4 linked regions of the Homo sapiens genome follow. The protein of the gene in region 4 interacts with the protein of the main gene of each other region in a pairwise test. Each region holds a gene or a part of one and is shown on either strand. Other genes may lie near its edges. The genes, in order: FBH1, TRIM14, CUTC and PIM2.

Region 1 (8,453 bases), on a different chromosome or scaffold from region 4:
TGTCATCTTTTAGGGAGGGACACATAAAACACTCACATAAAACAGCGGGCAAAATAACACAGTTGACATTATAACCCACAACCAGGTGTGTGATCACGTGTAATGACACATGGTACAGCTAGTAAGTGGATTTAAGAGAGGTGTAGAGAACCACTTACTTTATATCATGCCAGTGTGTATGATATTCCAAAAATACTACTCTTACAACAATGACCATGGCTAAATTATGTTATATCTACCAGACCAAATATTATAAGGTCATCAAAGTACTAATGAAAGAAAATATGCCTATGTGTTGAGTGAAAAACAGCATCCATTTCTGTGTACCCTACAATTGCAATTATGCAAAAATACACATCTATAAGGACAAAGACAAAAATAGCAAAAATGAGAATTATTATATGAAATACTGGGATTATGTGTTCTTTTTTTAGGTTCCAAAATTTCTATACCATTGTTATATAGTCTTTATAAACAAAAAACTTAAAACACCTTTTGATTATGATTCACTACTATATTCACTGAGTGCCTAATGCATAGTAGGCTCTTGAAAATCTTTCCATAAATGAATGAGTGAATATCTTTTTATCATATAACTGTGCTTCAGGGTTAAAAATGCTGTAAACATGCCACTGAATCCTTCTAACTCCCTGTGAAACAGGTAAGGCAAGGCATTATTTTATCTGAGATGGAGAGAATGAGGCATACAGAAGTTGTGACTTGCCCCAAGCCACACACGGTTAGTGACCAGTCAGAACTAGAGCCTAGGTGTGTACTCTGCGTGTTGTCAGCTCAGCTGTTCTCACACTAATGACAACACATGACTAGAAAAGCTTCCAGTAACCCGCGGCCTCACTGGCATTGCCAAGGGAAGAAGGGCATTCATTGTTAAAAGAGTGGAAACTAAGGTCCCCAGCCCTTCTTGTGTCTGCCTTTCCAGGAATGTTTCGCTGGCATAATCAGAATGGCCTGGGATAGAGACCACTCATGGTGCAGCCTGGTGGAAAGAGTCAAAAACCCAAATGCTTTCTTGCATGATAATCCCAAGGAAGGTGAACATTTCCATTGGGTATGTTCGTCTACAACGTTTCTGTGCATGAAGTGGTCAACAGAAATGTACTCTTACCCCAATCAAATGTATCCTTGAAGGGAATTCCCCTTCCGTCACCCGTACGGCCTCATCAAACACGTTGGCGTTGGTCCGGGACAACAAGGCCACTTGCCCCTTTGCGTCACCTCTAATGCCACCTTTAGGGAGAGAGCACAAACTCTATGGCAAATTGAAATAAAGAGGAAAACTTTTGTAACACAAAAGAGAAGAGTAACTAAAAGCCTTACTCTGATGGTTTCCTCCAACCAAAGTCTTTTTCCTGACTCTCTTGCAAACATCCAAGATAGTAGCTCCCACATAAGCTATTTCCACACCAAACCGAAAACTCTGAAAACAACAAGACAGAGGGAGTCAGCAGCCCGCCCTGTGGTGTGTCCGTGCATTTCCATCACTGCTGCCACAGCCTGGCCGGGCCAGACCCTACAAGTTGTTCCTGACCCCCCGCATGGAAAGCGAACTTCACAGGCTCACTTTCAAGGTCCTTCACAACTCAGCAGTCTTTATTTTCCATTATTCTCAACACCAATAGTAAATTTTTCTTTTAAGCAAATCTACCCTTTTCTCCAAATCAAATCTAGTGAAGTCTAAATCATACAAAAGATGAAGATCGGGTAAGGAGGGCTTCTCCCCTTGCCTTTGAGATCCCTCTCCACACTACCTTTAAAACTACTGCCCTGCACCAACCAGCCATGGCAGAAGCACTAGCACCTGCACATTGTCCGTGCTGCCCTGCCTCAGCCCACGCGGTTTTCTGTCTGACTTTCATCCACCAAAGTCACTTCCTAACCTTCAAAACTCAGCCCAAGACCCTGCTTCCTTCGCCCCTCCAGCTGGCAAGATATCATTCTTCCCTACACTCGGGGTGTGTACAGCCTTTTTCCATGCACACACAACTTCATGTGCTTTGGTGAATAGCAGTAACAGTCAAACGAAAACTAGACTTTAAACAAACACTACTTTGTTGCTATAAAACTACTCTGAGTGAACCATAACCGAAATTATAACATAAATATCCATGAGTTCATATTAAGATAGATAAATGATTGAATATTTAAATAGATGGGAGAGAAAAAACAAATCTCCTTTACAGAAGAATTCCAAATAATTTGGGAAGATTCTCCAACACTTACTCCTTGAGTGTGGACTGCATATAGGGACTTCCTTCCAAAGCATCCAGTAAGGAAAGGATGAAAAAAAGTGGAACTCTACAGTGAAGAAACCTGACAAACACTACATCAGCCAGGTGGTCAAGGTCAACATCAAGTCATGAGCCATGGTGACAGTATGCACCTCAACACCATGTGATGAAAATGGCGCTTCACCTCTGTGGTCTTCCTCCCAGAACCCAGGACTCTAGCCTAACCATGAGAAAAGACATTAGACAAATCCCAGCACAGGGGCAGCCTACAAATGCCTGACTGGAACTTCTGGAAAATGTGAAGGTCACATCAGAAATAGGGAAAGTCTGAGCAACTGTCACAGCCAAGAAGAGCCTCATGACACATGGTTACATGTAATGTGGGATCCTGGATGGGCTCCTGAAGTCACAAAAGACATTATTTCAAAACTAAGGAAATGCAAATGAACCATGGACTTCAGTCCATAATAATGTATCAATGTTGGTTCATTATCGTGACAAGTGTTCCACATTAATATAAGACGATAAGATGTTAGTAATGGGAAACTGAGTACAGGATATATGGGAACTCTCCTCTCGATTTTTCTGTAAATCTGAAACTGTTCTAAAAAAATACCATCTATTAAAAGAACAAATCACCTCTGCAGTGACGCTACCCTAAATCACCACAGCAGTAGGAGCTCAAGGGAAGAGTCACAGAGGCGTCTACGGAACTTTCAATAACATCACAAAACACAGCACAGTTGATACTTTCATCCAAGTGAGACATCTCTTCTAATCAGAAATAAGTTTCTTAAAAGCAGTGGTTCTCGAACTGCTGGTCTCAGGATGCTTCACACTTAAAAATCACACTTAAAAAGCCTCCAAAGAGCTTTTATTTACATGAGCTCTATCTATCTATATTTACCATATTATAAATTTTAATTCATTTAAAAATAACTATTAAAAACTATTTTTTTTTAAGACAGAGTCTCATTCTGTCACCCAGGCTGGAGTACAATGGTGCGACCTCGGCTCACTGCAACCTCTGCCTCCTGGGTTCAAGTGATTCTCCTGCCTCAGCCTCCTGAGTAGCTGACACTACAGGCGGGAGCCACCACACCTGGCTAATTTTTGTATTTTTAATAGAGACAGGGTTTTACCATGTTGGCCAGGCTGGTCTTGAACTCCTGACCTCAAGTGATCTGTCCTTCTTGGCCTCCCAAAATGCTGGGATTACAGGCATGAGCCACCATGCCCAGCCAAAAGCCTCTTATATGATGACATAAAGAACATATTTTTTGAAACATATTTCCGAGAACAAAAAAAAATGCAGCAAGAAGAGTGGCACCATGTTCCATTTTTGCAAATCTCTTCAATGCCTGGCATAACAGAAGACTGCTGGCTTCCTGTGTTCACATCTGCATTGCCTGCTGAGATATACTGTCTTGGCTGACACACATGAAGAAAATTCAACCTCACACAGACATGTGATTGGAAAGGAAGGAGCGCATAATAAACTTTTCGCATAATCAAGGACACTGTGAGTTGTCACATTCATTATGGGAGAGTTTGCCAACATTTTAATTTCACTTGAAAGCAAAGATGTTACTTTTGACAACAAACACTGTCAGTTATTTTCCCTGAAGTCGCAGCTTGTTTCACTTGTCTTTGAAAAAGTGCCAAATACACAAGTCTGAACAACCAGCGCTGGTCTAACAACTGTTCTAAGCACAAATGTACAAGGCGGCAGCAGCCATCGGTTCACAGTTCAGCCGCAGCAGCTCTTCCTCAGACGACCGCTGTGCACACACCTCTTATGAAAACAGTGTGACTTGGCAGACCCCTGAGAACCACACTTTGAGAACCATGGCTTAGAAGCAAGGATTTGCTAGATCTGGTGAGCCTGGCATACCACCTTTCACAGGGCCTGGCACGTAAGACATTGGGAGAGAGATGCAATGCCTCCCATGCAGAGTGCGCACTTACCTGCGTGAGATAGAAGACGTGGGTGTGGGGCACTGTGAACAGGGCGTTGACCGCACCCCGGAAGGTATAGATCTGCTGGTGCGGGTCCCCTACAAAGATTTTCCCACATGGCTGAGACAGAACTATGTTCATGATAGCTGTAACCAACGAGAGGAAAAGTGAGAAACCTTGAGGCCTCCACCCCAGGCAGCAAAAAGAAAAGGACAAAAACACTTCCACGAAGCTAAGCCAGGGCACACTGGACCTCACGGTCGCCTTTTCCTGTAGGACAGGCACACTCCATCAAAAGCAGCCATTTTATAATGGACAAAAGAAACAGTTTCTGGTGCTAGGAATGCAGATTATGTTTCGCCTTGGATGAATTGTTGGAATATAAGAAAACAACACAGGCAAATCTAAAATGAGGCAGTGTCTTCTCTAATATTATAGCACTCAAAATTGACCTACAAAGTCAGACGGATAACACTGTCTGTTCTCTCCTAGCCACTTGAGAAGTAGACAACACAAGCTTTTCCCTGTCAATGGACGATCTCTTCCCACAGAGCATGAGTCTAGGTCCCTGTCGTCTGCTGGTCTACAACTTGGTCAACATGTTAAGAACAACCTAAGCAAAACCTATGGTGACAGAGAAATCTGCTTGGGTGAGGGGAAGGGGCAGCTTGAAATCCTAAGGTAAGTATGAAGATCCTCTTCTTTATCACAAATAATAATAATCAACTTAGTTCACACAGGTGTCCTCTTACATAATCATGGCGCTGTTTCTACGTATTTGACACTACTGATGTCCTGAACAGTGTATCACCTGGTGTGCAGTCCTGGGCCTCATCCACAAAGATGGCGTCAAAAGAGGCCAGCGAAGGCTTGCTCAGCTGCCAGAGTTTCAAGTAGCCTAAAATAAGGAGAGACGCAGGAGTTGTAACGCCAGGAAGGCAGTCCCATTGGCCAGTCCCCGCCATTCGGCAGCCGCCTACCGTCATGAGTCATCTGGTGCGCCTCTTCTGTGCACTCCCCCAGCTTCCGCATGTTATCCCAGAGGCGGCTCGCTTCAAGGACACCATTCTAGGAAGTAAAGCATATGGTAACCCAGAGTTTGAGACCCTGGCAAAGGCAGCACCCTGCGGTCACACTGTCAACTCCCATACAGCAGTGGAGCCAGGGCATCCTCACAGAAGGGGGACCGCAGACACCACCCTAACCTCCTGGGTCTCCTCAACAGCCTCTCCACGCCAGAGGGTCTCCAGTGCTGAGACAGGAAGCAGCCGGGCCGTGCCATGCCCGTGACAGGACAGAGATCATAACAGTTAGGTGAACCAGAAAAGGCCAAATTGTTCTTCTAGATTTATGACTGATGCTTAATTCACAAAAACAATGGCACATGATTGAAAAGACTTGATGAAAAAAAGAAACAGACTTTCCCACTAGCAAAATCTATTCCATAGAACCAATAACCCAAGAAAATCAGGAGAGATTCCAGCCTTCAGTTAAGATCAGTTTTGAGGTCCAGGAGCCCCAGTGACAAGCTCTTATAAACTGAGGCGGGTCGTTCCATGTCTGCCTTCTCTGTTAAATGGGAGGACTATTCCGAGGCTTAAGTGAGATGGTCACCAGTGTCCTTCACAGGAGAAAATACCCAACAATTCACAGCCATCACCATGGGCCTACAGCCTCACCCTCCCACCTTCAACCTCCTATGACCAGGTCTGAAGAAATGAAAGAAGAAATAATGCTGTCCCACACTCCCTGTTTGCCCATCCTCAGATCCCTAACACTTCCCGTTCCCCCATCCTCAGATCCCTAACACTTCCCCTGATCCCCCATCCTCAGACCCCTAACACTTCCCATTTCCCCATCCTCAGATCCCTAACACTTCCCGTTTCCCCATCCTCAGACCCCTAACACTTCCCCTGTTTCCCCATCCTCAGACCCCTAACACTTCCCCTGTTTCCCCATCCTCAGATCCCTAACACTTCCCCTGTTCCCCCATCCTCAGATCCCTAACACTTCAGACACTTAGACACTCACCAGTTTTTCACTCTGCTCAACCATGACTCTCTGTCCTTGGCTGTTCTTACACCAAATAGGCACGTGATCAATGGTCAGCTCTTCGTCAGCCGAGGCAAAGAAGTTTTCTAGAGTCTTACACACAAGCTTGGCTCTTATGAATCCACCCTTCCCTTCAGCAAGGACGGAGTTGACCATGAAGGGTGTTAACTTGAAGAGATTCAACTTCTTCTTTGACTGGTACCTGCAATACCCATCCCAAATGAACAGCACGTGGCTCTCCTGGCTTGGTGCTATTGAACGTCCCCTCCATTCTCTCTAATGTCACCAGGAGGTAGCTTCAAGTGCCACACACAGGCGAGTGTTAATGTTTTAAAGCGAAAAAGTTCTGCATGGTCCATGTCTGACTGGAAATGGCTTTCAGGACTCACATGTACCAACCCAGAATAGGAACCAGCTTTCGGCAGACACTGCTATTCCACCATGAAGCTGGGCTCCAGAAGGTCCCCGGAGGGACCCTTGGAGTTCCCTGATGCCTCTACATCCAGGAGACCTGGGTCAAGTGTGCCTCGGCTGAGTCTTCCTCACTCCCTTCCAAGAAAAGCCTACAACTGATCAGGATTTGTGAGACTCTGAACTTTAAGCAAGTCATTTTGACTTTCTGTGCCTCACTTCCATGAGAACACCCCTCTTGGCAAGACGGCATTATATGTAAACAATATGTTGCTACAGGATAAAAGTACAAATGGCTAAACCTATGTATTTGTTTCCTGCCTGTAAGTGGAGATAACAGCACTACACTCCTCGGGGTCACTGTGGTGTAAGCTCACATGTGATCGTCACGGGAAAACAGTAAGACGCGACCGTGCCAGCAGCAACAGTGCCACTAGTGACAGCAGTACTCACTTCCGCCCTATGTGCCCGTAGGCCATGGAGTGGAAGGTTTTGCAGATGACGTTGCTGGGGAAGACGCGTTCGGCCTGCTTTGCGATGCTCTTGTTGAATGTCACATACAGAAACCTGCTCTGAGACCACTTCTCTGCATACTTGACCAGCGTTGAGGTCTTCCCAGTGCCTGGGGAAGCCAGGAGGAAAGGAGGTGACCCTCTGACCAGACAAGACATGCCCAGGGATCCCCAATCAGGCCTTGTCCAGGCTTATCACACCTCTGTCTTGAGAGCAGGACAGTAACAAGTTTTTCAGTGCTGGTAAAAGTAGTGCCACCAAAAGAGCAGCAGATTCAAAGCCAGGTGAAGGTGGGCTGGGATCTCAGCTGGGGCAGGCTCCAGCCGAGGGGCAAAGGACAGGTGGACCCCTTGACCTCATGAGCTTCAGTTTGCTTCTCAGAAATAAGTGGGTATCCATTAGAGGTAGGGTTCCCGAGGGCAAAAAGGACCCCTCAGGATAGGAGGGTAGGGTTAGGGAGGGGGAAGGCATGTCTCTGGAGAGAGACAGGTCCAGCTTTGAATTCCACCTCCACCACCTATCCACTTATTCAACCCCGGGCAAGGCTCTCTGTGCTTCAGTTTCTTCCTCTATAAAACAAGAATAACTAAGCAACCTTACGGAATGCTATCAGGATCAGCACAATGCCAAGCACACTGCAGGCATTCAAAATGTTGTTGTTGTTGTTAGCAGGGTATTTAGCCACAAAAGGAGCAGGAAGGGATTACAGGCAGAAAAAAAATAGCAAATAGCACGAGCAAAGGCTGTGATGAAAGAGTAACCAAGTACTTCAGGAGGCTGTGAGTGGATCGGCGTGGCTGACTGAGGCAGGACACTTGTAGATAATATATTTATGAATGTAAGTTAAAAGCCAATCTAAGGCAGGCCCTCTAGACATCACCCTATAAAACTGGGGAGCTCCTGAAACCCTGGGCTGGGGATTAACATGCCCTCCCTCTCCAGAAGCAATCAGTGCCTGAGCAAACATCACAATGCTGGGCTCAATCCCGGGGGCATCTGCCCGACCAACTAACTGCTGTGAACTACCTGTCTCAACAGGAATTCTGTGGATGTTCATGGAGTGGTCCGGGGAAGTAAGTATTCCTTGGCCAATTGCTTTTGAGATTGATTATTTGATCTGTTATTGAATTATTAGTTGGATGACAGATCAGAGCAAAGATGCCCTGGCAGGTAGCGGGAAGGGGATGTAGGGAGAAAAGGCAGAAAACCACCACCTCGTGAACCTGATGTGGGCTCCCTTACCGGCAAAGGCCATAATTTTCACCACCT
Region 2 (7,138 bases), on a different chromosome or scaffold from region 4:
TGGCTGTTATAAATTCACTTAGTACTTCTAAGCTATCTACAGATTATTTGGGTTTTTGTGTAAATAAGCATGTCACCTATGAATAATAATCTTTCATTTCCCCGATCTTTATTCTTTCCTTTCACTTCTTTTTCGTGCCTTGAGTTACTGTCTACTACATTTAGAACATTGTTGAATAGAAGTGGTTATAATGAGCAGCATTTTCTCCCACCTTAGACATATATCCAACAGAAATGCATACATATGTGAATCAAAAGACCTGCACAAGAATGTTATGTGACCGAAACACAGGTTCAGTTGCTCAACGCTTTGCAGAGTTCAATTAACAAGAGCGAGGTCTGGTATAAAGAAAGTGGTTTTATTCTAAAGATTAGCTTAGGGGAAGAGGTACAGGCTCCTCCTGCCCTTAACGGTACCGCCTCACTTTTGGGGCAGAAAGCAGAGGCTTTTAAATGGGGACTTTGTATGAATGGCATGCAGGGAAGGAGCAAGCAGATGGGGGTCTATATGACTCATTTTGATGCGTTTTCTACCAAGTGGTTGAGCTGGTGCCATTGAGGGCAGAACTAGGTTGTAATGTGGCCGTTGTCTTGAGATGCTGTCCGGGTGGAAGAGTTCTGTTGAAGGCATACTTTATGTTGTAAATTGACTGTTGTCTCTTAAGGCAATCTCCTGGTGGGAGAAAGTTCTGGTTCTAGACCCTCTAAGTAGGTAGATAAGTTTGCCCTGTAGGGACTATCTGGTGAAGGGAAGGTAATGGTTATAATTACATTTCTAAAGAGCTAAGTAGAGGCAGGGCACAGTGGCTCACACCTGTAACCACAGCACTTTGGGAGGCTGAGGCAGGCGGATCACCGGAGGTCAGGAGATCAAGACCAGCCTGGCCAACATGATGAAACCCTGTCTCTACTGAAAATACAAAAATTAGCCAGGCGTGGTGGCAGGTGCCTGTAATCCTAGTTACTAGGGAGCCTTAGGTAGGAGAATCGCTTGAACCCAGGAGGCCGAGGTTGCAGTGAGTCGAGATCACACCACTGCACTCCAGCCCGGGCAACAAGAGTGAAACTCCATCTTAAAAAAAATAAAAATAAAGAGCTAAGTAGGAAGTGGGAGACAGGAGAAAAAGGGGGAAAATCTTAAAAATAATTCATTCTCTTTCTCTTAGAAAAATGCTCTTTTTCTTAGAAAACTCAGTCTCTGTTACACGTTTACAGTTATAGCAACATTAGTCACAATAGGCAACACGGAAACAATCCAAATGTCCATGGAAAACTGTTTGGCCTTGTTTATGAAAGCTGAATATCCACATACCCTGTGATCCAGACTTAAAAAACAACAACAACAACAACAAAAAAAACTTCATGTGTACATACATGGTGTAATGCAAAGAGAAATGTTAATGAGAGTTTAAATCACTACAAACTTTGGGGAGGATAGTTTTGCAATATGTATCAAAGACCTTAAAAAAATACCCATTGACCCAGCAATTCCTGTTTTAGGAGTATATTCTACAGAAGCAATCAGATACGTAAAAATGTAATTGTATTAGTGGTTTCAAAAGCTTTTTAAACGGAGGACTAAGTTATGCGTCCAAACATCAAAATTTTAGAATCTCCACTAAAATGCTCTTGTGAAAGGATATTATGATGTGTCAAAATGCCTCACAAGTAGATCAATCAATTTTAAAAAGCAGATTACCTAACGTCATGTATGGTGTGACACCAATATTAAGAAAAGCTATAAAAATTAGCCGGGCGTGGTGGTGGGCGCCTGTAGTCCCAGCTACTCGGGAGGCTGAGGCAGGAGAATGGCCTGAACCTGGGAGGCGGAGCTTGCAGTGAGCGGAGATCGCGCCACTGCACTCCAGCCTGGGCAACAGAGCGAGACTCCGTTTCAAAAAAAGAAAAAAAAGAAAAAGAAAAGCTATAAAGCAGCAAGGGGAGGGGAAAGATAGGAAGTACACACACCCTAATGTTAACAGTGATAGGATTAGTTTTAATTAAATTTGTATTAATTGGCAACAAATTTCACGGCACAAAATACAGACAGTATAAGGGATGTGCAGCAGAGTGATCTCTTCTTCCCCTTTCCCCAAGACCCCGCCCCAGGGGCAGTCGCGGTTTAAAGGGGTCTGTCACCCCTTCCTTGGGCCATTTCCGCGCTTCGCATTTTGTGATTTGCACGTGCGTTGGTGGGTTCCCGGGGGCGGGGCGCCGCGCTGGCCCCGCCCACCAGGTGCGTCCCTTGTCTCGCCCCCTGCAGACGCGCGCACGCCCACGCTGGATCCTGACACGATGCACGCGCGCCTGCGCCTGTCCGCCGATCGCCTGACGGTGCGCTGCGGCCTGCTGGGCAGCCTGGGGCCCGTGCCCGTGCTGCGGTTCGACGCGCTCTGGCAAGTGCTGGCTCGTGACTGCTTCGCCACCGGCCGCCACTACTGGGAGGTTGACGTGCAGGAGGCGGGCGCCGGCTGGTGGGTGGGCGCGGCCTACGCCTCCCTTCGGCGCCGCGGGGCCTCGGCCGCCGCCCGCCTGGGCTGCAACCGCCAGTCCTGGTGCCTCAAGCGCTACGACCTTGAGTACTGGGCCTTCCACGACGGCCAGCGCAGCCGCCTGCGGCCCCGCGACGACCTCGACCGGCTCGGCGTCTTCCTGGACTACGAGGCCGGCGTCCTCGCCTTCTACGACGTGACGGGCGGCATGAGCCACCTGCATACCTTCCGCGCCACGTTCCAGGAGCCGCTCTACCCGGCCCTGCGGCTCTGGGAGGGGGCCATCAGCATCCCCCGGCTGCCCTAGGGGCCAGGACCGGCGTGACAGCCTCCAGGTACGCCGCAGCTGCCCAGTCTCGCCTAATCTACCTAGATCAGCGTGGCTGGTCCCCTTACTGCCTGCTTCTTAGGGCCCTCTCCCTGCCCCAGCTTTCCCCGACCAATCACGCCTACAGTGCTTTGAAGGTTTCCTCTCCTAGGCTAGTTTCAAACAGGCCCTAAACAAGTCTGCTGCTGCCCTCTCATCAGACCTCCGCACCCTCACCCCACCATCACTTACACTACTTTAATCCAGTTCCTTCAAAGTGATACCCCCACAGGTAAGCCCTCAGCATCCTGAATACATCATCCGCAGCCTGGGAACCTTCTCCCTCGTACAGCACAGGAACCTGACACATAGTAGGCACACAGTAAACGTTTGTGAATGAATGGGAGTCATCCAGTCCTGACTCTTCTGTCTCTTGAGGTCCCTTGAATCTTCCGCTTCCTCCCCACCGATTTCAGCGTGTCCACATCACAGCTCCCTCCAGAAGCTGCAAGAGCTTCTTAGCAGTTCCTGGTCTGAACCCTCTCCCAGTCCTCATCTTCCACCCTAAAACTAGAGTGATCTTCCTAAAACTTCACTTAACCCCTCAGCTATGAAAAGGCTTCCAGGAGTTTCCATGAAATAACAAAAAAAAATACAAGCGCCTCACCTTAGCATTCAAGGCTTGTCTAGTCTGCCCAAAATTACTTATCCTCACCTAGCTCCTACCACTCTTCTTAGAGACTCTCCAGTCAGAAATGTGTCGCATAGTTCCACCTCCACACCTCTCTGCTGCCAGCACATTCATGCAGAAAAGTCTTTTCACCTGTCTCAGTCTTCCGCAGGCTTACCTGCGCCAGGAAGTCTAACCAAGGAACAAGAATCTCACTATCAGAGCCACAAATCTGGGACCTGTCTTTCCAACTAAATTGGAGGCTTTGGAAGGGCAGCTTTGTCCTATACTCTCTCCACCCTGAAAAGTTCCCAGAAAGCCCCTTCCCTCCCAAGCAGTGAATTAATAACCAGCAGGTGCCTATCACTGAGTAACAGAAGAGCTGAGTTAGGCGGGCCTCACAGGTCACCCAGCCAGATCTCATCTGGGGAGTCTGAGGTCCTGAAAGAAAGCAGAGCTGCGTAAAGTTACCCCGGGGTGATATAGGGGGGCCAGACGTGTGCCCCGTTCACCCACCCCCAGGCAAGCATCTGACCTGTCCCCTGGCCCAGCCCTTAGGCCCAGCTTTCAACCTGCTTACTCATTTCTCAGGGGATTTTGGGAAGGAATCAGCAGGTGACAGTTGCTAAGCAACCAAAGGGGGTGGTGTTTCCCAACTGTCTTGGGACAAAAAGGGTAAGAGCACCCTTAGATCCAGATGTTGCCAAGGAAACCCAGAGTGCCCAGCTGTCTGGAATGAAGTGACAGAGGTAGAAAACAGTAGGCCCTCACAGGAGGCCACCTTCGCTAGCAGGGAGTGGGAGGCTTCTTTCCAGGGATTTGTGTCTCCGTTCTGAAGGTTCTGCGTCCTGTTTTGTCAATTCCCTAGACGGTTTTGAAGTTATATTCTGTTAAAGCATCTTCATAGGTGCTTGGTGGGAGGCCAAGGTCGCCGAATCCTCGTGGTTTAAATAGACTTTCAGTGCATTAGTTTGAACCATATAAAACTGACAATTTTCAATAGTTTTTGAGTTAAAAATGGCACTTTTGATATGAGACAATGTAGCAGAATACCAGGCAGACAGAACCTTGCAAACACCTTAACTTCTAACCAAAGACTTTAAAACTCTGGCTGGACAGAGTTTTAAGCACTATGCTGCAGGAATCCTGAGAAAAAGGGGAAATTAATTCTATTAGGAATGGCCCAAACTGAATTGTGACAGGCAGAGGGTGTTCCTGACAGAGGGAAGATGAATACACTTGACCCCAACATTTCTGCCCATCCCTGATGACCAAGACCTCTTCCCAGACCCACAGCTGCAGGGGCCAAGTAATAACAGCTCTTAATAGTTTATAATGCACTGTTTTAATGCTTTACGACTAAACTCATCTGATCCTTTCATCAGCCCTAGAGGGTAGAAAGTTTTCCCAATTCTACACATGGCAAAATGGAGACCCAGAGTCACTTGCCCAAGGTCGCACAGCTAGTGGTGGAGCTGGAGTCTGGGCCCAGGCTGTGAGTTCCAGGTCTGTGCTCATGGCCACCAGGCCCTACTGCTCAGGGTGAATGCAGCTGGTCTCTGGCCAGTGCCTGGTGCTCTGGCCCCTCTCGTGGAGCTACTGCCCATGATGCTTTCCTAGTGCCTGGTTACTCTGCGAGACTTGAGTCTACCTTTGGACTGCCTTCCTTGGGGGTCTGAGATGAGGCCTTATGGCCCAGAGGGGAACTTGATTCAAAAATTTGGGATTCATGTAGCAGAGACAGAGCTAGACTGTAAAGGTCACAAACTAGCTGTGTCAAGGCCCGTGATAGCCAGAAAGCGGCAGTTTCAGTCCATATCAATTGTGTGACCAGGGCTAGTCACTTTTTACTTCTCAGTGCCATCTATAAAATGGGGATAATAGCACTACCTACCAAGTGCTGTGAGGCTCAAATGAGCCAAAGGTTATAAACTTGCCTTAAAACTATAGTCCTATACAAAAATTAGCTGGGCGTGGTGGTGCATGCCTGTAATCCCAGCTACTAGGGAGGCTGAGGCAAGAGAGTTGCTTGAACCCAGGAGGCGGAGATTGCAGTGAGCTGAGATTGCACCACTGCACTCCAGCCTGGGGACAGAGCAAGACTCTTGTCTCAAAAAAAACAAAAAAAACATATATACTGCTGTATCATGCCAGGATTTATCAGCATTCCCAAGGGAGCTTGCACGGTACTGACCGAGTGCTGAGACTACTGGTATTCCCAGCTGCCATGTGGCAGCAGCAGGAGCTACTAGAATATTCTCAGCACAGGAATGAGGCTTCCTTGGTTTCCATGTCTGTAAGGGTTACTGATCACTTACCTTCTTCTCTTTCAGACTTGAATCTGTAGACATTTCTTTATTGATATGGCAAATTGCTTGCAGATATTTTTAAATGACAGCAATTTTCTAATATTTGGTTTAATAAAATGTGAATAATGTCCCTTTTAACCATGGTCTTCACTGGGAGTTCATGTTGCTTCAAGTCCCTAGCACCCAGTGATACCCCCACAGGTAAGCCCTCAGCATCCTGAATACATCATCCGCAGCCTGGGAACCTTCTCCCTCGTACAGCACAGGAACCTGACACATAGTAGGCACACAGTAAACATTTGTGAATGAATGGGAGTCATCCAGTCCTGACTCTTCTGTCTCTTGAGGTCCCTTGAATCTTCCGCTTCCTCCCCACCGATTTCAGCGTGTCCACATCACAGCTCCCTCCAGTTCATGTTGCTTCAAGTCCCTAGCACCCAGACCCAGAAGGGCCTTTACTCATATCTTATTCCTTACGCAGCCTTCTGGTAGTAGTCAGCTGCTCCCTGATTAACTATCTCCAGGGATGGGGCATTCACTGCTTCTGAAGATAACTCATTAAAGTTCTCACTTACGTGTAAACAAACCCTGACTCCCACCTGTTCCCATCCAAGATCGTATTATAGCTTGAACTCCTGGTCTCAAGCAATCCTCCCACCTCAGCCTCCTAAGTAGTTGGGATTACAGGCTCACACAAGCACGCCTGGCTCACATACCACCTTCTAACATATTGTGTGACTGAATCACTATGCTATGGATTTTTATGCATCTGCCCCCATCTGAATGGAAGTTCTCTGAGGAAGGGATTGGGGCTTGTTCATGGCCATATACTCTGTGCCTAAAGCAGTGCCTGGCACAAAGATGGCCCTCAATATTTGTTCAGAGAAGGAACACATGCCATTTCCCTCTCTTTGCTCTGAAAGGAGTGCTTTCAGCATTTTCTGCCTACAAGATCCTTTGACCAGTCCTTTCTCTGATGTGGAGTGACTGCTATACAATGCCAACTAAACACAGAGGCCAAGGGCAGGAAAGGGATAAAGACAATGGAGAAGTAAAGGGCTGTAAGGAAGTGAGAATGAAGGCTTAAAGGAAAGGACATGTGCAGCCAGCTCTCACCCCTCTCTGCAGCCACCCAGCAACTGGAGGATATGGACTTTGTTTGGAACCACCCCTTCTTCTGGTGCTCTGTTTATAATGCACTGTTGGCCAGTGCACTAAGCTGGCCAACTTGAAGGAGAGATTGCATCACTGGATCTTTTTCTGTCTCCAGTGGGCTGACACAGGGCCTAGCCCAGAAACATCTGCTGTCTAAGGAGCAGGTGGAGGTGGATGACAGCCAGGTCCCTGGAGACCGCCATTCC
Region 3 (8,453 bases), on a different chromosome or scaffold from region 4:
GGCAGATGGCTTGAGCCCAAGAGTTCGAGACCAGCCTGGGCAACACAGCAAGACCTTATATCTAAACTAAAAAATAAAAATAAAAAGTAAAAAAAACTGCAATGCCCATGGCAGAGAAAAGGTAAAATTTGCTGTGCTTATCCAAGTTAGATCAGATCTTTAGGCACTATCTATATGTAATTTGATCTTGAAAGCCTTGGTTATTAAAAAGGCTTGTGTGAAAGAAATAAGAATTATATACATTATTGCCTGCTTGCTTTTCCTACAGAGTAACCACAAAGTCAGTAATATATAGTCTCACAAACTGGCTAAACAGCAGAATGTCAGGAGTAACCACAACAGAGTCTTAGGGGAAAAAAAGATAAAGTCCACGTACCTGCTCAATGAGTCGCTTTATTAGGGGTAGCCCTTCTAATGCTGAACTGTCACATCCACTGGTCAACACGCGTTCAAATCCCAAGGTTAAGAGGGTCTCCAGAGCTGCCATTGGATCATGAACCATGTCAAAGGCTGAAATAAATAAAACTGATGTGAATTTTGAACAGGTATCTCTAACGCAGAGTTTCCCAAAATGTAGTATACATGCAGTGGCATGCTGGACCTAGCTTGTACTGGCTTACAAAGGCCAATTATTAAACACTCAAGAATTCTGCAAGTCAGATTGTTAATCCACTGGCAGCCTGAAATTAGTGAAGGTAGGGCCAGGTGCAGTGGCTCGTGCCTATAATCTTGGCATTTTGGGAGGCCGAGGTGGGGAGATCACTTGAGCGCAGGAGTTTGAGACCAGCCTGGGCAATGTGGCAAGACCCCATATCTACAATACAAAAATTATCTGGGCATGGTGGTGTGCACCTATAGTCCCAGCTACTCGAGAGGCTGAGATGGGAGGATCACCTGAGCCTAAGGGGTCGAGACTGCAGTGAGCCAATTGCACCATTGTGCCCTAGCCTGGACGACAGAGCAAGACTTGTCTCAAAAGAAAAATAAAAATTTAATTAATAATAATAAAAAAATTCAGTGAAGGTAGAGTATTTAAACCACAGAAATTTAAAAATGCTACAAATCAGGGCTCTTTTTTCTAGGAGCCAGTTCATCAGCACACCACAGTCTACATACCACTGTGCATAATCATTTTAATAATGGTACACATTTAAATAGTATATTTACTTAAATGCAGATAAGAAATGAAAAGTTTTCAATATAAAGTAATTATAAAAGTTTCTATTTAAAATAAATTTACTTTTTTTTAACTTTTTTTTAAGTTCAGGGGTACAAGTGCAGGTTTGTTATACAGATAAACCCGTGTCTTGGGAGTTTGTTGTGCAGATTATTTCATCACCAAGGTATTAAGCCTAGTACTCATAGTTATTTTTCCTGATCCTCTCTGTCCTCCCACCCTCCACCCTCGGAAAGGCCCCAGTGTGTGTTGTTCCCCTCTATGTGTCTATGTGTTCTCATCATTTAGCTCCCACTTATGAGTGAGAACATGTGGTATTTGGTTTTCTGTTCTTATGTTAGTTTGCTAAGGATAATGGTCTCCAGCTCCATCCATGCCTCTGCAAAGGACATGATCTTGTTCTTTTTTATGGGTGCATACTTAAGATTTTATTTAAAGAAAATGATTAAATAAAAATGTGCACAGGTAGCACTCATATATGGTAAAATTTTAAATGTGATAGGCAGGTGAGTCAAATTTGGGAAACTGTTCTAAGGCTTCAGAAATATTGGACTAGGTAGAATGAAACACTGTACTCACCAGTTCTAGAAAAAGCCTTGGCTCACATTCTCATTACTGACTAATATTTTGGATTAATCTATTAACCCCACATACTCAAGGTTCATAGCATAAGGGTAGTTGTTTTCAACAGACTATATGAAGTTTCACTTCCAACCTACTTTTTTTTGTTTGTGAGATGCAGTCTTGCTCTGTCGCCCAGGCTGGAGTGCAGTGGCACGGTCTCGGCTCACTGCAACCTCTGACTCCCTGATTCAAGTGATTCTCCTGCCTCAGCCTCCCGAGTAGCTGGGATTACAGGCATGCGCCACCACGCCCAGCTAATTTTTGTATTTTTAGTACAGACGGGGTTTCACCATGTTGGCCAGGATGGTCTCAATCTCCTAACCTTGTGATCCACCCACCTCGGTCTCCCAAAGTGGTAGGATTATAGGGGTAAGCCACTGTGCCCAGCCCCATCCTACTTTCTAAGAGATTTCTCCCCTCCTCAGAGCCCTCAAAGAGTAAAGTGGTATCAGGAAACTGAAAACAGAAAATCTACTTCTGCTTTGGTTCTCATACTGCTACATGACATTGAAGCTCTAGCCTGCAGTGGATTAGGTGGTAGTGGTCCTCTGGGACAGGCCCCTTCATTTCACCCTTTAGTGTATGTAGGCAACTAAATCTACCACAGAGGATTTCCCTATTTTGGTGGCAGCACCTTCTCACCACTAAAACTATATTATGATATCTCATTAAATACATTAGTGAGAAAAATGTGGAACCCAAAAATTCTACAAATTTTGAAAATATGAAAATATTTTTGTTAAACCTATTGGAATAAAGAACAGAACAGAAATTTGAAGTAAAAAAATTTTTTTTGACTGTAGACTTCTTTTCATGTGCAATGGCAGTGCTCTCTGAAGGCAAAATAGATACTTGTTCTTCCATTTTACCAAGGTGTAGCCTAAGAGTATAGAAATTATAACTACCTGATTTTTTGGCCAGGGGTGGTGGCTCACGCCTGTAATCCCAGCACTTTGGGAGACCAAGGCGGGTGGATCACGAGGTCAGGAGTTAAAGACCAGCCTGGCCAAGATGGTGAAACCCTGTTTCTACTAAAAATCCAAAAATTAGCTGGGCATGGTGGCAGGCGCCTGTAATCCCAGCTACTCGGGAGGCTGAGGCAGAGAACTGCTTGAACCCGGGAGGCAGAGGTTGTAGTGAGCCGGATCGTGCGACTGCACTCCAGCCTAGGCGACAGAGCGAGACTCCGTCTCAAACAAACAAACAAAAAAAATTATATCTACCTGATTTTTTACAGGAAATATTTCTTTACAAGAAAGTATCACATTAAAAAATCACTGTGGTGCAGACAAGCTATAATGAAAAATAATTTTGTATACTATTGTGGACATCTGTTCATTGACTAGATAGTCAACACTAGATTGCATCTGTTTCTCCTTTCTCCCTTCCTAATAAGACCCAATTCTTCTCCAGATACCCAACTTTCTCTCCCCTTAAGAAGTCTCTATCTGTGAAACCCCACCTCACTGCTAGCCCCAGGGATGGTTTTGCCTGGCTTAAGATAGACAGTACCTTTCATTTCACCAGCCACAACAATTTATTCTTTTGGGGTTGCACATGACCTAATACAGTCTCAGTTAAAATGAGTCTCAGGATTCTTGCTTGGAATGCTATGATAGGTACACACACTTGAAGGCAATACTTGCTCTCTCCCTCGCTCTCTTATATCCCACCACCACCTACACCCACTTTTAACAACTTTTCATAACTAAGGCTTCAAATTTTCTAGAAATTGCACATCTCTACTTTTATAACTTTTAGTCCTAGGATCTAAAAAACCAATTGGTAACCTTGGAACACTACAGAATTGTGTTCCATAAAAAGGTGGTGGCAGTTGTTGAAATTAGAAAACTAACACTGTTCAATAGAACTTTTAAAATGAAAATGACTCACCTCGGTGGAAAGTGACTGGCAGAGGGCGGCAAATAGCTATAAAAAGAAAGTCATATAACAACATGAATGAAGATGTCATCACTGATTACTATATATAGAATTCTCCATGTTAGCTGAAACTTTTTAATACTTTCTTCGCCTAACAAGACAGTAAACTGACATAATAATAAAATGGCAGCCTTACAAATTCAAAAGTCTTATCTTTCCACAAATCTCTGATTTTTATACAAAAAAATGGTCGTGGCTTATCACCAAATGAAAACCATTTAATCTGACAACTATAAGGGCAGCATTACATCTAATACTTGTCCCTCTGAGGTCATTCAATAAGTACTTTGGTTTAGTAACATAGGTAGTTTGCTTCTGTCCTCTTTGCATCTTCCAACTTGGTGGTCCATCCTCACCAACTATAATACTTTTGAAGTTCTTGGTGCAGTGGTTAAAGGAACCATGGTAAATTTCCCTTAAATTTCTATTCTATGGGAACAGTAGCGGAGCCTAATCTATAGCAATTGAGGAGAGTTAAGAAGGCTTTGCCACACATACACCCCACCCCAAACATCTAAATAACTACTATTTGAAATACTTAGGTTAGTATAAGTGTCTGTAGCTATGACCGCAAAGTCAGTTTTGTGATGTTGTTTTTCTATATTGTGAGCATAAATACAATTATCATTAGAGGCTTTTACGTCTTAGATACAAATTCTTACCCATAAGGGACATACACAGCTCTTTGTCAATGTGTCCATCTTCAGTCAATGCCCCAAAAACCAAACCATCAGCACCATAAAGCTTGGCAAGACGAATGTCAGCCTTCATCACCTCAATTTCACGATCTGAATACAAAAAATCACCTCCCCGTGGCCGAATCATCACAAAAACTGGGATCTGAACACTCTGCTTCACTACTTGAAGGACACCTACAAGAAAAGAAAGCAGATTAAAATTCAAATGTGAGCTAAAAGCCAATGATATATTATTGGTCATTTACCAGACAAAGATGGCTCTAAAAGGTAGGACAGACACTGAGAAGAAAAATGTATATATGGTAGAAGGTAAGTAATAGCAAAGGGTTAAATAGAACGATTTAGAAAACAGAAGATGCTACAATTTAAAAGCACTTGTCAGTTGACTCAACAAAAATCCTTATGACTCAGAACCCTTTTATTGGTAGGTGACATTTGAAAGTGCAATAACTACCAGGCTCGATGTTCTGCCAGTACATTATTCCCCAAGATCCAATTTCTTCTTTCTAATTCATTACAGCTCTATTTAAAACCTACTGGAGAGATGGTTAAATAGCTTCAAAGTTCATATTCCTTTAATGGGCAAAGACATTTAGCAAAACCTTTTTTTTTTTTTTTTAAACAAGATACGTGAAAGGGAGCAAAGTTCTACTTATTTGTGATTTTATGCAGAGATCTATGCATAAAAGTACCTAAATATGCCATAATAAGTGGCTAGCTCATAAACCATCAATAGTATAAGGCTGTGACAGGCCCCATCAGTTGTTTACCCAGTATGAATTTCTTTCTTTTTTCTTGCTAAAAGAACTCCAATTTTGCATAGGATAGCAGTTGTCCAATACTAAGCAATGAATCATAATTGGTGTTACAAAAACAGACTGTACTCAAATTTACAGACATGCTCTAGGGATTTTAGAATGGCCAGGAATGCCCTCTTTTCATGTGAAGATTCCAAAGGGCTGTTGTGTATACAAACTTTTTACATTAAATAATGCTATTATCAACCTCAGAGTAGCATAACTTAGGAGACCACAATTCATACACAGACTTCTGCTTTTGGCCAAGACAGGGTAACAGTGACTGGATTTACCCTCCCACCTATAATAATAATAATAATAAAAAAACAGACAAAATATATGAAACAGTGGTTTGCAAGACACTGGACATTAAGCAGTGAAGGGCAATGATCCTTGAAAATGGTAAACAATGAAGTTAGTAAGTCAATTCTGATTGACCCAATTTACTGCCTTGAGAGTTTCTAGGCCAAAGCACAGGGATGGGGGACCCACATGGAGCCAAAACAATTCCCTGAGTTAAGGAGACAAAGCTTAGAGTTCAGGAAGACTGAAGTAGCTAGAGTTTATAGGAGACAGTACAGGGAGGACAGAAAGATAACACTGGAGTAGCAAAGACTATCTCAATGGTTTAAAAAAAGGATTTTTTTTAAAAAAGATAGGCTTGGTACGGTGGCTCATGCCTGTAATCCCAGTGCTTTGGGAGGCTGAGATGGGTGGATTGCCTGAGGCAAGGAGTTCAAGACCAGTCTGGGTAAAATGGTGAGACTCCATCTCTACCAAACAAACAAACAAACAAATGTAGCTGGACATGGTGGCATATGCCTGTAATCCTAGCTACTTGAGAGGCTGAGGCAGGACAATTGCTTGAGCCCAGGAGTTTGAGGCTGTAGGGAGCTATGGTCACACCACTTCAGTCAAGCCTGGACAACAGGTGAGACCCTGTCAAAAGAAAAAAAGGAAGGAAGGAAAGCAAAGAGAGAGAAAAGGAGAAGGAAAGAAAAGAAAGGAAAGGAAGGAATGAAAGAAGAAAGGAAGACAGATAACTCTGGAGGTCTGCAGAGAACCTCCTTTAATATTCAGCTGAGTACTGACCGGTGCATGCATGCAAAGAAACTACGCAAGGCCTGGGACAGAACCAATAAAAAGGATTAGAAATAATGTGCCTGTCATTCATACCAAGCTGTGAATAATGCCTATTCCACCAGCCAGACAGGAAAATTTCAAAATTCATGGTCACAGGGTAGAGTTCACAGAAGAATCCTGACTCAGTAGTAAGGAATAATTAGCTCTGTATTAACCACTGCTCCAGACTTGCCCAGCAAATCTTAAAAGCAAGACCCAAAAGGACCAAACTGTTTTGGAACATTTGTAGGAATTCAAAAATGTCTAGTAACCAATAAAGTAAAATTCACAATGTCTTGCATCCAATAAAAAATTACAAGGCAGGAAAATAAGATATATTATTAGATGATAAATCAAATGAAACAAACCCAGAACTGATATAGATGTTAGAATTCGCAGACAAGGTCATTATAACAGCTATCATAACTTTATTCCACATGTTCAAAAAAGTTAAGAGACATCAGAGACATAAAAAGACTCAAATTTCTACAGATGAAGACTACAATGTATGAGATGAAAACATACCAGGAGAGACTAATAGCAGATTAGATAGTGCAGAAGAAAAGGTCAGTAAGCTCAAGGACAAAACAATAGCAACTATGCAAAATGAAAACACAGAAAGGAGATTTTCTTTTAAATAGAGAAGTTCATCAGTGACTTTTGGGACAATTTCAAGTAGTCTAATGTAAGAATAGCTTAAGTCTCTAAAGGAGGGAGTGGAGAACAAGCTGCAAGCTGAAAATTTTCCAAATGTGATGAGAAGTATAAATGCACAGGTCCAAGAAACATGAAAAAACTATACTCAGGTACACCATAAGAAAATTGTTCAAAACCAATAATAAAAAAATCTTAAAAGTAGGTAGAAAAAAGAGACATATTACATAGAGAAAAACAAAGATATGGATGATAGCTTTTTGTCAGAAACAATACAAGCAAGACGACAATGGAAAAACATCTTCAAAGAAAAAAAAAACCTGTCAACCTAGAATTCTATACCCAGCAAAAATACCTTTCAAAAATGAAGGAAAAAGCTATTTTAGACATATAAAAGCTGAAGGAATGAATCACTAGCATACTTTTTAACAAAAAAAGTTAAAGAAAGTACTTCAGGCAGAATGAAAATGAAACCAGACAGAAATACGGGATCTACACAAAGGAATAAAGAACACCAGAAATGGTAGTTGCATGTGGGTAAATATATGATTTTTTTCTTATTATTTAAATCTCTTATTTAACAAAAGATAATTGACTCTTCAAACAAAACTAACAATACAGCATGGAGTTTTTGATATATGTATGAGTAAAATATATGACAACAATAGCACAAAGACCAGGAGGGGATTTCAATATACTAAGGATGCCAGCATGGAAAGATTTTATAAAAGCCTAATCCTTGATGTTACTACAGAGCAGCTGAACCGGTATTAACAATTACCTACCTACCTTTCAACTTTTTGATGTGAGAAAGAAATATGTTTGATCAAATCTTTGATTTTTTTACAATCATAAACATTTCTGATACAACATCCATAACATAGTTAACATGACATTAGTAAAGGACCCCAACGAAACTGATTATCAGTTGCTTCCAGGCTCTATGAACTCCAATCAGAAAACCTGGGAAAAATGGACACTTACCCATGCTGGGTGTAGTTCCCCCCTCTGATAAACCAGAACATAATTCAATCCGATCAGCACCTGTAATATAAAAGCATTGCTCAACACATTTTTAAAAAATAAGCTGTTATTAAACAGCAACCTGTTTATATATATTTTTTCCAAATATAGAACAGTCTTAGAAATCATCTCAGAGAAATCAAATTATAAAGCTAGAGTAAAACTCTGTTTTTAACTCAGCTATACTCTGCAGCCCACATTGTGTTACTCATACTCAAATTTAAAAATTAATTAAAGTTAAGCTAGTTCTCTTAAATTTTTGTATTATAGGGTTGCCTCTCTATGTACAGGAAAGTAACATAGAATAAAGATGTTTCTTAAAACTGACTATAGTGGAATACTGAGTCTTTGTTGATAAGAAAATAACATAATATTTCCCAAAAGGGTCTTTATTATTCTAAGCTTTAAAAAACACAA
Region 4 (8,296 bases):
CAGCTACTCTGGAGGCTGAGGCAGGAGAACCGCTGGAACCCGGAAGGCGGAGTTTATACTGAACCGAGACAAATAAGCAGGGCAAGAGAGGGAACAACTCAGGTCGGAACAAGTGAAACCAACATGGAATAGGGTAGGCCAGGTAAGTCAAGTGTTGAAGGAGAAATTAGAGGGATGGGTATGTAAGGGTAAAGATGGGGGAAGAGGCTAAAGATAAAGAGCAAAACAGGTGACTACACCCTGGACAGATTCCAGTCAGCGCCCAACCCCAGCCCCGCCCTGGCCAGTACCCTGACAGGGCTTTTCTTCTGCAACAGGGGAAAGGGCTTCTTCATTCCCCTGGGGTGCCAGGGAAGGTAGTTTTTCTGCTTCTGAGATAGCCATCTTGATTGGGGATGTGCCCTAAACACCTTCAATATGCACAGTATCTCCAACAGAGAACCCTTCTGCACATACTGGGCACTGCATAAGATCAGGGGCAGGGGAATCAAGATTTTTTTGTGTGTGTGTGGTGCAGCTTCAAGAATCCTTAAAGCTCTTTAGGATGGCAACATAAGACTGTGGCTTCCTGAGGACAAAGCAGAGGGACAGTCTGTCTCAGTGCACAGTAGATGCTCCATAAAAGCCTCACACCTACAAATGGCCAGCCGCTTCTGATTCTATTACTTTTATTAAATAGTGGGTTTCCACACATGGCTTTTTAAATAATCCAGGCAGGAGAAGAGAGGAGGGCACACTTGGAACTCCCCTCCCCACAATACGTGATTATTTACATTTTAGTAATTGGACAATCCCGGCTCAGGAGGAGGTTGCAAGAATCTGCAAAAGTTGGAGGGAGCGCCCCAGGAGAACAAACAGCAAGCCTTATTTCCCCTAGCCCATCCCCCAAAAAACCATCCATCCCATCCTAGTGTCTGGTGGTGTCCGGTGGTGTCCATCTTCCATTCCTTCCCAAATTATGGAAGTAAGGTTCTTCTCACCAGAATAAGAGCACTTGGGATAACAGAGTAGGGTCCCCTCACCCAAAAAAAAAAAAAAAAAAAAGAAGCCTTGGGGTAACAACAGGGCATTACCTCCCCCAGAATAAAGAATCCTGGGCTGAGGCAGGTAAGCAGCTTGACCCAATATGGGACCCTAGGCTAGGGGAAAGGGTCCCTTTACTAAAATAAAAGCTACTGGGGTATTGGAAGGAAAGCACCCTTGCCCAAGTAAGAGCATATGAACTAAGTTTGTGTGGTGGTAGTAGGAGGTGCCAATGTGGGGTGACACATCATCAGAATAAGAGTCCCGGGGCTCAGAATGGGAACAACTTCACCAAAATAAACTTCCTTAGCAAAATGAGAAGCAAGAAGTTCCCCCTCCAGAATCAGGGACCACAGGTTCTGGGAGGAAGGCTCCTTTGTAGGATTGGGAAGGGAACTGGGCAGACTTGGTTTATGTCTTCTAACCCCTGATCCTCAATCCCTTACCTTAGTAATACTGGACTTTAATGACTGGTAATGACCTGTAAAACCAAGTCAACAAATGTCCATCTATCCCTGTGACATGGCCATGGGATGGCTCTTCTGACCATTGGGGGCCAGGCCAGGCCAGGCCAGGCTTAGGGTAGCAAGGACCAGGCCAAAGGGGCAGGGCCTCCTTTGGAGGGGTTGAGGGGTACATCCTCGGCTGGTGTTTGCATCCAGGGGTCCAGCAGGATCTCTTCCAGTGAGGGTCGGGAAGAAGGTTTGGGGGCCAGGCACCGGCGGATTAGGGCACAGCAGTCTGTAGGCCAAGAAGCAGAGAGGGAAGATTAGCAGTCAGTAGGGGGTACTGGTCCCTGAGAAGGATGGAGTCTTCTGGGCTGGGGTCAGTGAGGCCTCACCTGGGGAGACATGGGCTGGGAAGTGGAGCTCAGCTTCCAGAATCTCCTGGTCCCTCTCAAAGGGAATGTCCCCACACACCATGTCATAGAGGAGGATGCCCAGTGACCAGACAGTGGCCGGGAGTGCATGGTACTGGTGTCGAGAGATCCACTCTGGGGGGCTGTACACCCTTGTCCCTGCACACAAGCCAGGGGTTAGACCAACTCAATCTCATGATGCCCTTCTCCAACCCCAAACTCTCCAGGAAGGATGGCCTCACCACAATTAAGAGCACTCAAGATAAAAGCAGAGTCCCCTCACTAGATAAAAAGCAGCTAAAATAACAGAGTCCCCTCAACAGAATAAAAGCACTGAAAAGTAACAGGATCCCCTTACCAGAGAAAGAATACTCAGGATGGTAACAGGATCCCCTCACCAGAATAGGAGCCCAGAATAAGGTTAGCACACCATTAAAAGATGGACTTTATCAGAGGGCAAGGCTGAGAATCCCCAGTATTAGCAATCGATCATCTTATATAATGCAGTATGGGTCAAGGATTACAGGACACCCCACCACTGGAGGCCAAAGGTCACAAGGCCATCAAGTAAAAACAATCCCTCCAGGGAGATTTAGAGAAGCCTTACCATCAAAGTCAGTGTAGGGTTCATCATGAAGCAGGGCACCAGAACCAAAATCAATGAGTTTGGCACAGCCACGGCGTAGGTCTATCAGGATGTTCTCATCCTTGATGTCACGATGGACAACTCCACGGGAATGGCAGTGCTGGATGGCTGCCACTACTTGGCCAAAGAAGCAGCGGCTTGGGCCTTCACCCAGTGGGCCCTTCTCTGTGATATAGTCAAAGAGATCCTGGGCGGGCAAAGGCCGCTCGAGGACCAGCATGAAGCCCTCCTGTGTCTCAAACCAGTCAAGCAGGCGGATCACGCCAGGGTGCCCACCACCTGCACCCACTTTCCATAGCAGTGCGACTTCGAGTGGGCATGTGACTGAGTCTGACTGGGGGCACAGGTGGGGTGGGAAGCAGGGAGAGAAAAAAGACAGATGTCAGGGCAACAGCTCTGAGGCTTTTTACCTAAGCTCAACTCAGGGCCCCTTTTCCTGACAGTGTGTCGCTAAGCAACTCACTTCCCTTCCTGGGCCTCACTTTCCCTAAAGACACAAACTCACACAGCGATTGAGAGGGTGAAACCAGCAAAGAGCCTGCACAAATCTCGCATGTCGTAGATCAATAAACATTTGAATAAACGAAAGAAGTTCGGCCAGGCACAGTGGCTCATCCCTGCAATCCCAGCACTTTGGGAGGCTGATGTGGGTGGATTGCTTGAGCCCAAGAGTTCAAGATCAGCCTGGGCAAAATGGCACAAACACAAAAATTAGCCAGGCTTGGTGGCATGCACCTGTAGTCCCAGCTACTTGGGAGGCTCAGGTGGGAGGGTCGCTTGAGCCAAGAAGGCAGAGGTTGCAGTGAAGATCACACCACTGCACTCCAGCTGTCTCAAAACAAACAAGCAAAAATACAAAGAAAAATCTGGTTATCAACTGAAGGCTTTCAGCAGAAGCAGCACCACCATTATGTGTTTTGTTTTGTTCCCTGACATATCCCAGATTAGAATAGTACCTTACACAGGTGATCAATAAATGTTAAACAGATGACAGCACTTAATAGCATGGGCTCTGACAAGCAGTTAGCACTCAATAAACACTTATTGTGTAATGGTTTGTTTTGTTCACGGACGTATATGAAGCACTAGAACAGTGGCTGCTAACAGAGTAGGGCTGAATAAATATTTGTTAAACAGGTGAAAACAATTAGTAAAAAAGGACCTAGCACAAAATGAGCTCTCAATACTTATGTAATACTTTGCTGAGTGTCTAGAATTATGTCTGTCATATAGTAGGTGGTCAATATACCTAATTTGTTAAACAGCTGAGTGATTTATTACAAAGGACCTAGCACAAAAGGACTTAGTGTTATCATGTGTTTTGTCAGCATCACCAAGCACCTAGAACCAGCCAATAAAAAGCCTAAATGTGGCCCTGCGCAGTGGCTCACGCCTGTAATCCCAGCACTTTGGGAGGCCGAGACGGGCAGATCACCTGAGGTCGGGAGTTCGAGACCAGCCTGACCAACATGGAGAAACCCCGTCTCTACTAAAAATACAAAATTAGAGGCCGGGCGCGGTGGCTCACGCCTGTAATCCCAGCACTTTGGGAGGCCCAAGGCGGGCAGATCACTAGGTCAGGGGTTCGAGACCAGCCTGGCCAACATGGTGAAACACGGTCTCTACTAAAAACGTAAAACTTAGCCGGGCATGGCAGCGGGTGCCTGTAATTCCAGCTACTCAGGAGCCTGAGGCAGGAGAATCGCTTGAACCCAGGAGGTGGAGGCTGCAGTGAGCTGAGATCACGCCACTGCACTCCAGCCCAGGCAGCAGAGCGAAACTCCGTCTCAAGGAAAAAAAAAAGTCATAAATGCAGCCGGGCGTGGTGGCTCATGCCTGTAATCCCAGCACTTTGAGTGGCCGAGGCAGGCGGATCACCTGAGGTCAGCAGTTCAAAACCCGCCTGGCCAACATGGTGAAACCCTGTCTCTACTAAAAATACAAAAATTAGCCGGGCATGGTTGTGCGCTCCTGTAGTCCCAGCTACTTGGGAGGCTGAGGCAGGAGAATCACTTGAACCCAGGAGACGGAGGTTGCAGTGAGCCGAGATCGCGTCACCTCACTCCAGCCTGGGCAACAGAGGGAGACTGTGTCTCCAAAAAAAAAAAAGTATAAACGCTGGGGGCCACAAAATCCGCCCCCCACTGCCTCCCCAAGCCCTGCGCAGGTACACTTCGAGCAGCAACCTTCTGGGATGAGGTAGAGCCCTCTCCTGGCCAGGCTGCTGACTTGCACGGCAGCAGACGTTTTCTCACCGAGATGCAAAAATACCGATATTGCGCAGGCGCACCCTCTCCCTTTGGGTCCCATGGACTGCGCAGGCGCAGTTTCCCCTAGAGCCCGCCAGGGGGCGCTCCCAACTCTACAACTTGCCCAGACCCGCCCTGATGTCCGTTAGCGTTATAACGGCAAGAGAGAAGCAGCCACCATCACCATGGCAACCAGTGACCTCTGCCCCTTGTTCCCCACCAGCACGCCCTGCGGGCAGTCCCCCAGCAGTGTTTGGAGGAAGGATGGTAAAGGTTTGTTGGAGGGGAGAATCCAGGGCTCTAGGGGAATTGGGGTGAATCAGAACTGTATGTCACCCCAAGGGAGTATAAATGGGCTGGCAGTATTCTCACTGTTACAGGGCCCAGGGAGTCATACATCCCCTGGAAAAGCAAGGAGGTGAATACATCAGTGATGGAGTAGGTAGGTTAGGAAGGGCTCCGAAGGTACTCACCAAGGGGGACCAGCCCAGCACACGATTCCGGGGAATCACTTTGATGGCCACCTGGAGAAGAAGGCCGTGATAAGGAGGCCAGCAGGTGATCCCCAGACCCCTCCCAGTCTAGACCTTCTGCCTACCTCCAGTATTCCTCCATCTACCAGCACTCTAGTCTTTCTGGTCCCCAACCACAGCACCCCACAGAACGCGTACCAGGGCGTCTCCCCTGCCCTCCAGGTCCTCGGAACCAAGTTTATCTCTCCCACCTTCCTTAGCCCTGGGCTCTCCGTTCTCAGGCATCAGGACTCATCACTCCAAGTCCTGAGTTCTAGATTTCCTGATACCCCAGGCCCACAATCTTCCTATTTAGCTCTACGACACCCCAACTCTGTACCAGGGTCCTGGTCCGCATGACTCCACACTGGACACCTACCTCCAAAAGTCCCACAAATCTCACATCTAGGTCCCTGCTTTCCCACACATACACAGCCTGGACCCCGGGGTCAAGGAACTCCGGAATCTGAAGCCCCCTGCCCCCCCCCCCCGCCCATAACCTCCTAGACCGACACACACACGCGCACGCACACACACCTGGCCCTCTACACACACTGCAGGCTCACTCCTCGGACACGGACACGGACACACACACACACACACCTGGTCCTCTACACACTCTGCAGGCTCACTCCTCGGTCAACCAGCATTCCAGGGCCAGGACCCCCGCCCCCGCCACACGCACCTGACCCTCCCAAGACCCTCATGACGGATACCTGGAGTCGATCTGTGAGGCGGTGTCCTGCGAAGACGGTGCCAAAGCCCCCCTTACCCAGGAGGGGGCCGAGTCGATACTCGGCCTCGAACGCTTCCCGATCCTTGCCTCCTACGCAGGCGGAGGCGAGGAAGTCAGGGTGGCGGCGTGCTGAGCCCAGCCACGACTCCCTCCCCCCGCGCTGCAACCCATCATTCCAGCCCACCCCGTCTGGTTGCAGTAGGGGAGGATGTACTCACCTGGCGGCGGCGTGGGGGTCCCGGGGGGCGCGGGAGGCCCCTGTAGAGGCTTGGTCAACATGGAGGTGGCGCTGCGCAGATTGAGCCCACTGAACCCGCTAAGCCCGCAGGGCGTGGACGCCCGGGGCAGCGCAGCTGGGGAGCCAGGGCTGGGGGGCGCCAGGGTGGAAAGCAGAGAAACTGGTGGCCCGGAAGCGCCCGCAGACGGCGCAGCGTTGAGATTCGCCGCGCGCGCCAGCCCCAATGCTACTGAGCCTGGGCACGCGCCTCCCGGGAGAGTCACCCTGGGCGACAGCCCCGCCCACCTGGCTTTGATCAATCCGGACGCGGCACCTGCTGTACCACAGCCAATCGGAGCCAGTTCTTATTTGCATACCACCCTCATCGTTTCAAGGGCCCCCTTATGCAAATACACGCTCGGTTCTTCCGAGGAGGCGGGGCCTGCATGTAAATGAGGGGGCTTGAGGTGGGGCTCACACCAAGAGGAAACCGGTTCTGGGAATCCCTTTGCAGCACCGCGCTTGTTTTGGTTGTTGCGCGGGGTTGTTGTTGGTAGTGGTGGCGGTGTGTGTGTGTATTTACACTTAAAAAATAACTGCGCAGTATCCTTTCCTGGGAAGTTGGTTTGCCGCCGCTGCCTGGATATTAGCACAGAGATAGCGCCAGGCCGGGCTTCTAAGAATTCGCGCTTGTGGCTATCCAAGACTCCGTCTCGAAAGGTGCTTGTCGGACTCCTTCACCGGAGTCCTCCAGGCGACTGGCGGCCTTCACTGGAAAGCTGAGGCCAGGGCCCTGGAAATATCTGGTAGCCAGGGAGGGGGAACCCCTACCATCAACGCCACGGGTGTGCATTGGTCAAAGGCAGCATTGCCTGGTGAGTGTTTATTGGAGCTTTTAACCCTGAGCCCTGGGCCCAGTCAGCAAGTCTAGAATCTAGAACAGCAGGGGGTGGTTCTTGGGGGATGGGGGTGAGCCCAGAGTGGTGGTGGCATGGGGCTGCTCTTGGAGTTGAGAGAGGCAAGGACTGAGAGACATGATAGAGGCTGCTAGAGAAGTGGCAACTCTCAGACACAAATTTGTGAAAAACAGCCAGAAAAGGCGCCACACCCCAGGAAGAAAAATGCACTCCAAAGACACATGAATGCCAAGATATACACAAACACATACTGTCAGACACATTCACAGAAACGACCTAGATACACATGCAGCCAGAGACTGACATACACTTTCAGGCAAGCACACTGTCAGAAAAATAGTTATGTCCTAGAATGACACCCAGAGATACACTGTTACAGAAAGGCACTCACGCAGACCTACATTTGCCATGTGATGACACAGAAATGTCCCGTCACACTGGCAGAACTTGTCACAAACACACTGTCACCATCAGATATGCACTGTCACAGCAAGACTTGTACTGTCCCAGAAATGAGAGACGCAGAGTCTGTCACAGGAAGATGCACAGATGCTCCAGGGACACACATGCACTGCTCTGAAGGCAGACATGTACTGATGTGATAGAATCACATTTTGTGGCAGTGTCACAAAAACAGACATGGATAGACCTGTTCAGACACAGACATACATACACCATGACACATGCAGTTTATCAATGGAACAAACTGTCCAGAAATAGCTACCCAGAATCTGTTGCAGGAACACAAACGGACATCCACCCCATCAGACAGAAACCACAGATGCACTGTCACAGACAGACCCACGCAGGCATGCACGCATCTTGGATTTAGACACAAACTGTCAGAGATAAGAGTCCCACACTCAGTCACCATCTGACACACCTGGAAACAAGCCCTTCATCACACACACAACTGGGGACACTCTGTGAGCTGCACATGAAGACTTGGACTCACCACAGTCACACACACACAGACAACACCAAAAAAGCACACATGTACTCTCCTTTGTTCACCCAACGTTATTGGGGGTGGTTTGCTATAAGCCTGCCAGGCCTTGATGGGGATGTTGGTATCAGAGATGTACAGATAAGTCAGGCATCAAACCCGTGCCATGAAGTTTATCTGTAGTACAGCTA

The links.
Region 1: the proteins of PIM2 (region 4) and FBH1 interact in a two-hybrid assay, tested with the Homo sapiens proteins (one large-scale study listed by IntAct).
Region 2: the proteins of PIM2 (region 4) and TRIM14 interact in a two-hybrid assay, tested with the Homo sapiens proteins (one large-scale study listed by BioGRID).
Region 3: the proteins of PIM2 (region 4) and CUTC interact in a two-hybrid assay, tested with the Homo sapiens proteins (one large-scale study listed by BioGRID).

Annotation. Positions count from the first base shown.
Region 1 is NC_000010.11:5,914,243-5,922,695, reverse strand, and holds part of FBH1 (F-box DNA helicase 1), read right to left. Parts: coding exon 8,427-8,453; intron 7,294-8,426; coding exon 7,125-7,293; intron 6,463-7,124; coding exon 6,240-6,462; intron 5,277-6,239; coding exon 5,189-5,276; intron 5,107-5,188; coding exon 5,020-5,106; intron 4,355-5,019; coding exon 4,218-4,354; intron 1,439-4,217; coding exon 1,339-1,438; intron 1,249-1,338; coding exon 1,127-1,248; intron 1-1,126. UniProt on the Homo sapiens protein: 3'-5' DNA helicase and substrate-recognition component of the SCF(FBH1) E3 ubiquitin ligase complex that plays a key role in response to stalled/damaged replication forks.
Region 2 is NC_000009.12:98,083,130-98,090,267, reverse strand, and holds the end of TRIM14 (tripartite motif-containing protein 14), read left to right. Parts: intron 1-2,262; coding exon 2,263-2,798; 3' UTR 2,799-5,915; downstream 5,916-7,138.
Region 3 is NC_000010.11:99,739,314-99,747,766, reverse strand, and holds part of CUTC (copper homeostasis protein cutC homolog), read right to left. Parts: intron 8,058-8,453; coding exon 7,998-8,057; intron 4,615-7,997; coding exon 4,405-4,614; intron 3,731-4,404; coding exon 3,695-3,730; intron 511-3,694; coding exon 377-510; intron 1-376. UniProt on the Homo sapiens protein: May play a role in copper homeostasis. Can bind one Cu(1+) per subunit.
Region 4 is NC_000023.11:48,912,531-48,920,826, forward strand, and holds PIM2 (serine/threonine-protein kinase pim-2), read right to left. Parts: upstream 6,495-8,296; 5' UTR 6,305-6,494; coding exon 6,244-6,304; intron 6,116-6,243; coding exon 6,006-6,115; intron 5,302-6,005; coding exon 5,251-5,301; intron 2,863-5,250; coding exon 2,490-2,862; intron 2,042-2,489; coding exon 1,865-2,041; intron 1,765-1,864; coding exon 1,601-1,764; 3' UTR 652-1,600; downstream 1-651. UniProt on the Homo sapiens protein: Proto-oncogene with serine/threonine kinase activity involved in cell survival and cell proliferation.